Homo sapiens: one gene and its partner. The protein of the gene in region 2 purifies or fractionates together with the protein of the main gene of each other region. This does not show direct contact. Each region holds a gene or a part of one and is shown on either strand. Other genes may lie near its edges. The genes, in order: MYO9A and RASGEF1A.

Evidence for each region.
Region 1: the proteins of RASGEF1A (region 2) and MYO9A purify together in Homo sapiens (affinity purification with mass spectrometry; one large-scale study listed by BioGRID and IntAct). This does not show direct contact.

Annotation. Positions count from the first base shown.
Region 1 is NC_000015.10:71,821,489-71,824,975, forward strand, and holds the end of MYO9A (unconventional myosin-IXa), read right to left. Parts: 3' UTR 803-3,487; downstream 1-802. UniProt on the Homo sapiens protein: Myosins are actin-based motor molecules with ATPase activity. Unconventional myosins serve in intracellular movements. Regulates Rho by stimulating it's GTPase activity in neurons.
Region 2 is NC_000010.11:43,264,102-43,268,467, forward strand, and holds the start of RASGEF1A (ras-GEF domain-containing family member 1A), read right to left. Parts: upstream 2,965-4,366; 5' UTR 2,744-2,964; intron 1-2,743. UniProt on the Homo sapiens protein: Guanine nucleotide exchange factor (GEF) with specificity for RAP2A, KRAS, HRAS, and NRAS (in vitro). Plays a role in cell migration.

The DNA of each region.
Region 1 (3,487 bases), on a different chromosome or scaffold from region 2:
TTAGGGACATGTTTTTTTCCCCATGTAACCTCAGACCTGATTTGGCATTTTGGAACCACTGATCCTAGTCAATCCTCTCATCCAATATCTGCCTAGCCAGCACCTTTTATTAGGTGCTGGGATCTAAGAGTCAGCAAGACAGGTAAGTGTTTGACGCTGTGAAAACTGAGAGCTGTTGAGAACACAGACCTCTAACCCAATTCACAGGGTCAGAGCAAACTTCCTAGGACAACTACCTTTTATACTAAAACCTGCGAGTCAGTAGGAGTTCTCCAAAGCTGGGAGTTTGGGAAACAGAACTGACTTCCAGATAAGAAAACTAACATTCAGAGAGAGCGAATGCCTTTCCCAGACATGCAGTAAAGTTGGTAGCAGAACAAAAATGACAAACTGAGTTAAAATTTCTGTTCCTATTGCAATGTGTTGCTTTGAATTTCAGTGAGAATCCTTGGGCCCTCTATTGGCAACCTCTATTAGCAACTTCTTCAAGTGGCCAATTTAGGGGAGGATCCTAAATGCAGATTTACTGCTTTTCCTCCCTTCTAGCCTTAAACCGATTAAATGAAGTCTTGACAGCCAGCAGCCTGCATCCACTACAGAAAAAACGACACCTTGAATCACACCTTCACTTGAATTCAGTTGAGTTCCAGTGACTACCACCTCTGTGCTTTGTCAACTTTGGGTTGAGTCCTTTCCTGAAAACACATCAGTGTAACTAAGAAGTCACTGCTGTTTCTTGGAGTTGGGTTGGAATAGTTGGAGTGGGAGCCAGGATGGTTGGAAAACAAACCACACATATTGCTGCTTCTGGAAGCTTTGTTCTTTAATGAGCCATGGGGTGATTTGTTCATCAAGCTGCTTTTGTGTAGCCATACAGTGCATATTTTGAGTGACACAAACTGCACTTTATACAGATGGTATCTTGTTACCCCTCAACCCCCCAGCAAAGAAAAAAAAACAAAAAGGAAATTACAAAGTGCCTATTGATTGCATCCGGAATGTAATCAGTTCCGTGGGTGAGATAAATCATTCTTCTTATAGAATTATTCTATTAAACAGTAAAATGTTATATTTCACAGGATATGTCCTTTTATAATACAGTTTTTAAAAAAAATTTACACTCAGCATACTTATAAATTACTTAAAATCCATTAAAATAATATAATACGAATCTGTAGTCCACACCTTTCCCATAGTAAATACAAATACTTGGTTCAAAAGGTGCAACTTTTATATGACCTCAGAGGGCTGATAAATAGGCATTAAGAATGGATGACTAGCAAGGTGACAGGCCCATTGTTGGGGCTTTTTTGAAAATAGTTTCAACCAGGGGACCAACATGAGACCTAATAGATCCATCTCCACAATCATCATTTTGCTGTTACCCTTTCAATACCCAATCAAATGTGGGAGTCATTCCAGAGAAAAGTGGTTAAAAGTAGTCTAGGGCATAGAAAAAGAGGACTCTCACAGATACCAAGGAGTTTTACTACCAAGGCCAGCATGGTATTGCAGGACAGTGCTGGGGAGTTGTCACAAGAGTATGGGTGGACATAACACATTTGTCCATACAGAATGATGCATGCCCCGCATCCAGCTTCCCACCAAGAAGAAAAAAGAGAGGAGGATGAGGAAAGCCATGGAGTGAGTATGTATGTTTCTTTTTAAAATGAAAACTCTCTTAGCTTTGAACACATCCTGAGAATCCTTTCTTCTTTCTAGTTTACCAAAGTGCTTGTTACAGTGAAAAACACAGCCCACAGGCACTGAGGTGGGACTACAGAACCTTGCTGGACCACATCTTTTCAGCACATTTCTGTGACCCTCTGTTTTTGATGGAGAAAACAACGCTACTGTTATGAAACACAGAATGGAGTCTTCATTAATCTTCCAGCAGGGTAAGTGCTCTGGCAGGTTTCCAAAGCATGAGAAGGTGGGGGCTCTAGTATTCCATCCCAGGACCTCTGGCCCTTTTGTCTCTCTCTGCAAGGCTCATAGTTGGAGGGCTGTATCTCCCTTTGTGTTTTCAGAAGCCCAGAGTGGCAAAATAATTTAAATGGCAGGAGGTACAAAGTACGTTGTAAACTAAGCCTCCCTGAATCCTGCTGTATTTGCTGTTGATTTGCTTCAATTTGTGATACAGAATGAAATCACACTTCTCTGCTTTTGTTACATTTTCCATAATAAGTACATACTAAATTACAGGGATACATTCACTTTAATGGGCAGAGTTGAAAATTCAGGTTTTGTTTGGGGCTGGGAATGTGTGCTGTGAGAAGAGTGCTCTGCATTTTGGAGTATGGGCTCCAAATGTGGAGCTGCCCCACTGCTGCCATGCAGAGATCAAACAAGCAAAGGAGAAGCACTATGGAACCACAAATGTGATGCATATTAAGGGCTAACAGTTTCATAAGTGATTGTAATGCGGCATCACTTTGTGGTGACATAACTTTACCATGCAGAGGGCCAGTGAGAACAGATGGATGCAGACACAGCGTTTGGTTCTGAAGGTTTTTAAGAGTTATGGCTTCATCTCTTGATCAGGCCAACAAGGCCTACTACCCTATGTAAACAACGGCTTTCCCTCAAAGGGAGGGCCCCACACTGCTCTCCACTCTTATCATTTTGTGGCTCTCTCCTCCTCACCCACCCACCCCAATCCTGGCAGATTAAATTACTAGAAATCCACAAATCTAGCAACTGAAAAAACAAGTTTTTTTAATTGAATTTTATCCAAACTGGAGTTTCAGGTCCCTGAGAAAAATTATAAAGTCTCTTAACATCCATCACCTAGTTCCTTTAAAGTGACCTACATCAGTCGTTTTTTAACTGCCAAAAAACTTATTTTGCCAAAAAAGCCCCACAAAGATTTAGAAGGAAGAACATGTGCCAACATATGTTCTTCTGGCCATTCCTCTGGGCCACAGGAAATTATTCCATAAGGGCAATCTCTTTTTTTCATACAGGATTTAACCAACATTCTGGAGCAAGTGCAGAGTAACAATTAATGCCCAGCAGTACACTACTCTCCCAAGAACACTGAAACACAGACTGTGCAACCTGGCACGGGGCTGAGGAACCAGCAATCCCACTCTAACACACCATGCTGAGGGGTTTTCCTCTATCCTCTAGGAGATTCTCTGAAATTCAGATTTTTAAAAGCTTAACATTATTTATTACTCCTCAGGACAAGATGAACAAGGTGGCAGATGTCTGTGGGATATAAAGCATAACATTTGCTCATTAACTATCATTATTCTGGAGATTTTAATGGCTTCCTTTCTCTGGCTCAATTCTGAACCCAAAGTAGGGAGAGGTAAGACTCCTGCTACCTTTAGCTGCCACTCAGAATTATGCTCCAAGTCTAACCTCTGGGGCTGGCCAATAACCACTGAGGCAGTGGCGTGAGGTTCAGTGTTGTGTAACAGGAGAGAGAGACTCTGCCTTAACAAAAGACTTAATATTTCCACAACTTCAAAGAAGTATG
Region 2 (4,366 bases):
ACAGTGCCCGCCAAGCCACTGCTGGCCATACCAGCTGACCTTCCCAAACCCTGCTCCCGGGCTGCTAGCTGGGGAATTCCTGGTGTCCCAGCGCGCAGGGACATTCTGCATGGGTTCCTGGCAGCTCGCCACTCTGGGCCGGCCCAGAGCCCACTCTCACATACCCACAGCCCCAGGCTCTGTGCCCAAAAAGTGGCGACAGGGATACACCCAAAAAGTGGGCAGTGAGCCCTCTCTGGACCCCCGCAGGTCAGGCTGACAGCCATAGGGGAGGGCCTCTGACACCCCCAGCAATCCACCAGTGGGTATCAGAGGCCCTCCTCTATGGCTGTCAGCCCACCAGTGCCACTTCAGTCCCCTCCCTCCGCACATCACACCCTTGCTAGGTAAACACTCATCCTCCCCAGCAGGGAGTGGGCAGGGGAGGGCAGAGGAGCCGGGAGGCAGGCTGGAGTGGGTGGGAGTTACAGGAGGCAGATTGGAAGCTCCAACAGAAAAGCAGCCAGAGTGCCGGACCCAAGCAGATGGCCTCAGGAGAAAAAGGGGGAAGGGGAGGGAGGGTCCGTCAAGGGGCAGCAGGGAGGGGTGGGGGAGAATGCCTTGAGTCTCCTCCCCATCTGCTATCTGCTATGCCCCTGGCACCTACCCCCAGCAGCCCAGCGCCCCTCCCCTGGGGTGGGCCATGCAGAGAAGAGCATCCCTCCACCAGCCCCTCTCCTGAGGACAGTGGGGGGGCCAAACCCCCTGCCCCCATCCCTGCCTTGGCACAGCACCTTCACTTGACCTATTTGACAAATAGGGCTTCTGTGAAACCCACGGTTCTATTGCCAAAAACCAAAGGCCAACCAAAGCTGTCCCATCCTGCCCCTGGCATCATTCTACAGGTGGGGACCGGCGTGCTCAGGGGCTCCTGGCCACACTGTGTCCCAGTGCCCACTCGCTCTCCTCCCTGGCTGGCCCCTCCCACCGCTGGGGGCCACTGTGTGCGTGGCTCTCCCCACCGCAGCCACTGTCCAGCACAAATGCCATTTCTCCCTCCTCCTCCTCCTCCCCTGCCTGCAGTTGCTAAGTTACACCAAAAAACCCCTCTGCTCTGTGTGAACTGTTCCATTTCCACGATTTGCCAGGTGGAAGGGAGCCATCCGGCTGGCAGCTCGAAGATGCCTCCCAGAGAAAAACAAACTCACTGGCTGGCCTTCAGGCCAAGGCACACCTGGGATACCTGCTTGGTTCACAAACCCAGGGGCATGTGCAGGAGGACACAGCTTCTCTACTTCACTAGAGAGCCTGGGGGATCCACACAGCTCATGCCCTTCTCAGGAGCAGGGAGTGTGGGCCTGCTGCACCCGCCTCGCTGGGTCACTACCACCCACAGCCCTAAGGACACACACTGGCTGGAGGGGCAGAGAACCCACCCACGTGTCCCTGGCCATCCAGCCAAGGTCCTCCATGTCCCCCTGCTCCGGATCTCCCCTTCCTGGGCTGGGGTCCTGAGGTTCCAAAGCAAAGTGTCACTGGACATCAGGGTGGAAATGTCCTCAGAGGTCATCAAAACCGTGTCAGTCTACAGATGGGGAAACTGAGTCTCAGAAGCCTGCAGCCTGCCCGTGGTTCACGAATCAAGACCTGTAGCCTTTCGGCTGGAGGCCCCCTAGAGCCGCTTAGAGTCCAGGGCACCGAGGTGGACAGGCTGGGCTGGCAAGACTGCATCCGGAGGGGGCGGGAGAACCCTGGGGGGACAGAGGGAACCAAGGCCTCTGGGAGGCTCCCCTGCACCCAGCCTGACTCCTGTGTTTCAGGATCCTGCGGCCGACGGCCATCGGGGCCCTTCCTGCGCAGGACAGTGGGAGAAGAGTGGCAGTGGTGGGGAGGGTGAACCAGGGAGAAGCTCACTGCTCTGAGCAGGGAGGGAGGGAGCCCCGGCCACCACCAGGTCTCTGCCCCCAGGTGGCTCCCAAGAGGCAGGCAGCGGCCTCTCTGTAAATATCCACCAGGTCCAGCACCCAGAGGCAGCCAGAAATGCAGGGCACAGGAACCTGCCAGCGCGTCCCTCCACACACAGCAGGGGACTCCCGCCCCCACCTCTCACTCACCGACCCTCGGACCAGAACCAGCTGCACCTGCCCCGTTCCTGGGGCCGGCAAGGCCTGGGGCAAAGAGAGCGTGGTCCTTCAAATGACCCTTGCCCAGCAGGGAGAGGGAGACACCTGGCATGGCCCTGGACCTCTCCCCCAAATGCAGAGCTCAAGCCCCAATTCCTCGCCAAACAGCAAGGGCGTGAGATACCACGGCGGGGCCCAGAATGCAGAAGAGCAAATGGAAACTTCCAACTGCGCAGCCCTGAGCTCCTCCGATTCCCCAGCCCCCACCCCCACGCCAGGCCCCGGGCAGCGAACCTGCCCGCAGTGCCCACGCCCGCCCGCCGCGTGCGCTCCTGCCACGCCCGGCCCGGCCCGGCCCGGCCCGCCAGGTGCCCTGAAGGGGCGGAGGGTGCAGGGGGTCCTGGCGCCGTCCAGCCCGGGGCGGAGTTCTCAGCAACTCCGCGCGCCGGGATCCCGGCCGCCCTCCCCGCGCGCGTCCCCCGCCCCGCGCCCGGAGCCCGCGCCCCGGCCCCACGACGGCCGCGCCGGGAGGGACCCCGGGCCCGCGCACGCCGCGCCCTGCCCGCGCCGGCGACCGGAGGGCACGGCCCCAGGCGCGGGCGGGGGCCCCGAGGCACTGAGGGTCCGCGGCCGCTGCCTACCTCGGTCCGGGCCAGCGTCGCTCCCGCGCCGCCCTCGCGCCGCAGTCGGGCCCCGAGCAGCGCGCGGCCGGCGCCGGCGGCGGCTCATGCTCGGCGCCCGGGCCCGCGGCACCCGCCCACCCGCGGCCGCCCCCGCGCTGCGCCAGCTGCGGGCAGAGCAGCTCCCTCCGCAGCCGGCGCCGGGGAGCGCGAGCGAGCGAGCGAACGAGCGAGCGCGGAGCGAGCGCCGAGCGGGCACGGAGCGGGCGCGAGAGCGCGGGGAGCGGGGGAGCGGGCGGGCGCGGGACGCGGAGGGAGGAGGGTGCGGGGCAAAGGTGCAGGGGGAGGTAGGGCGCGGGACGGGGCTCGAGCAGAGGGCACTGGGACAGGGCGGGCGCCGGGAGAGGGCGGCCAGGCTTTCATTTAAAAAGGATAAGGCATCACGCCTGTAATCCCAGCACTTTGGGAGGCCGAGACGGGCGGATCACGAGGTCAGGAGATCGAGACCATCCCGGCTAACACGGTGAAACCCCATCTCTACTAAAAATACAAAAAAAAAAATTAGCCGGGCGTGGTGGCGGGCGCCTGTAGTCCCAGCTACTCGGGAGGCTGAGGGAGGAGAATGGTGTAAACTCGGGAGGTGGAGCTTGCAGTGAGCCGAGATCGCGCCACTGCACTCCAGCCTGGGTAACAGAGTGAGACTCCGTCTCAAAAAAAAAAAAAAAAAAAAAAAAAAAAGGATCAGGCAGCAGACAAGCTAGGAGGCGATGCGGCCACCGCATTTAAAAGGCCCTCTGGGGACTCCCGCAGAGCTGGCAAAATTTTTGTCAGTGGAATCAGACGGTGAAAGCCCTTCTGTGGGCAAGTCCTGGCCCCTTGGGTCACTCCCCTTAACCATCTTAATCGCCCTGTAAGGTCGGTGGTGGATTTGTTCCCATTGGACAGGTTAGTAAACTGATGCACAGGGAGTGCGGTTACCCTGCAGGGTCTCAGAGCCTATAAGTGGCAGAGCAAGGCTCCAAAGCCACCTTGAAAGATTTCAGAACCACTAAAGCAGGACACAGGTCTTCTGGCGTCCACTGGAACTTCCTGTCGCTCTGAAGGGTCACCTTCTCTTGAACGGACACCCTGTGGCCTGACCCCAGGGTGGCCCAGAGTGACTCTTGCAGGCAGTCAGACGAGGGCCAGTGAGAAACAGGTCTGGGGCGACGATGTCCCCAGGTGGAGGGGTCTGTGTGAAAAAATGGGGAGGAGCCCCACAGCACCCCTTGAAGAGGCTGAGGACCTTGCTTACTCACTTAGTCCTTGTGTCTTGAACACCTGTATGCCAGGTGTAAGATGGGGCACTGGGATTCGGCTGTGAATGTCTCTGTCTGGTTGGAGTTTGCATTCTTGTGGGAAGTAGGCAGTGAATAAAAATACACATAAATAGTTCATGTGTCAGATGCTGCAGATCCCACAGAGAGGCCCAGCAGGGAGAGGGAGCCAGCGAAGGGAGGGGGAGGGGAGCTTGTAGGGTGGGGGATTCTTTTTTATTTTTTAAGGGGAGGTGTCACTGTGTGGCCCAGGCTGGAGTGCAGTGGCTATTCACAGGTGCAATCACTATGCTCTACAGCCTGGAACTTCCTGACTCTAGTGAGCCTC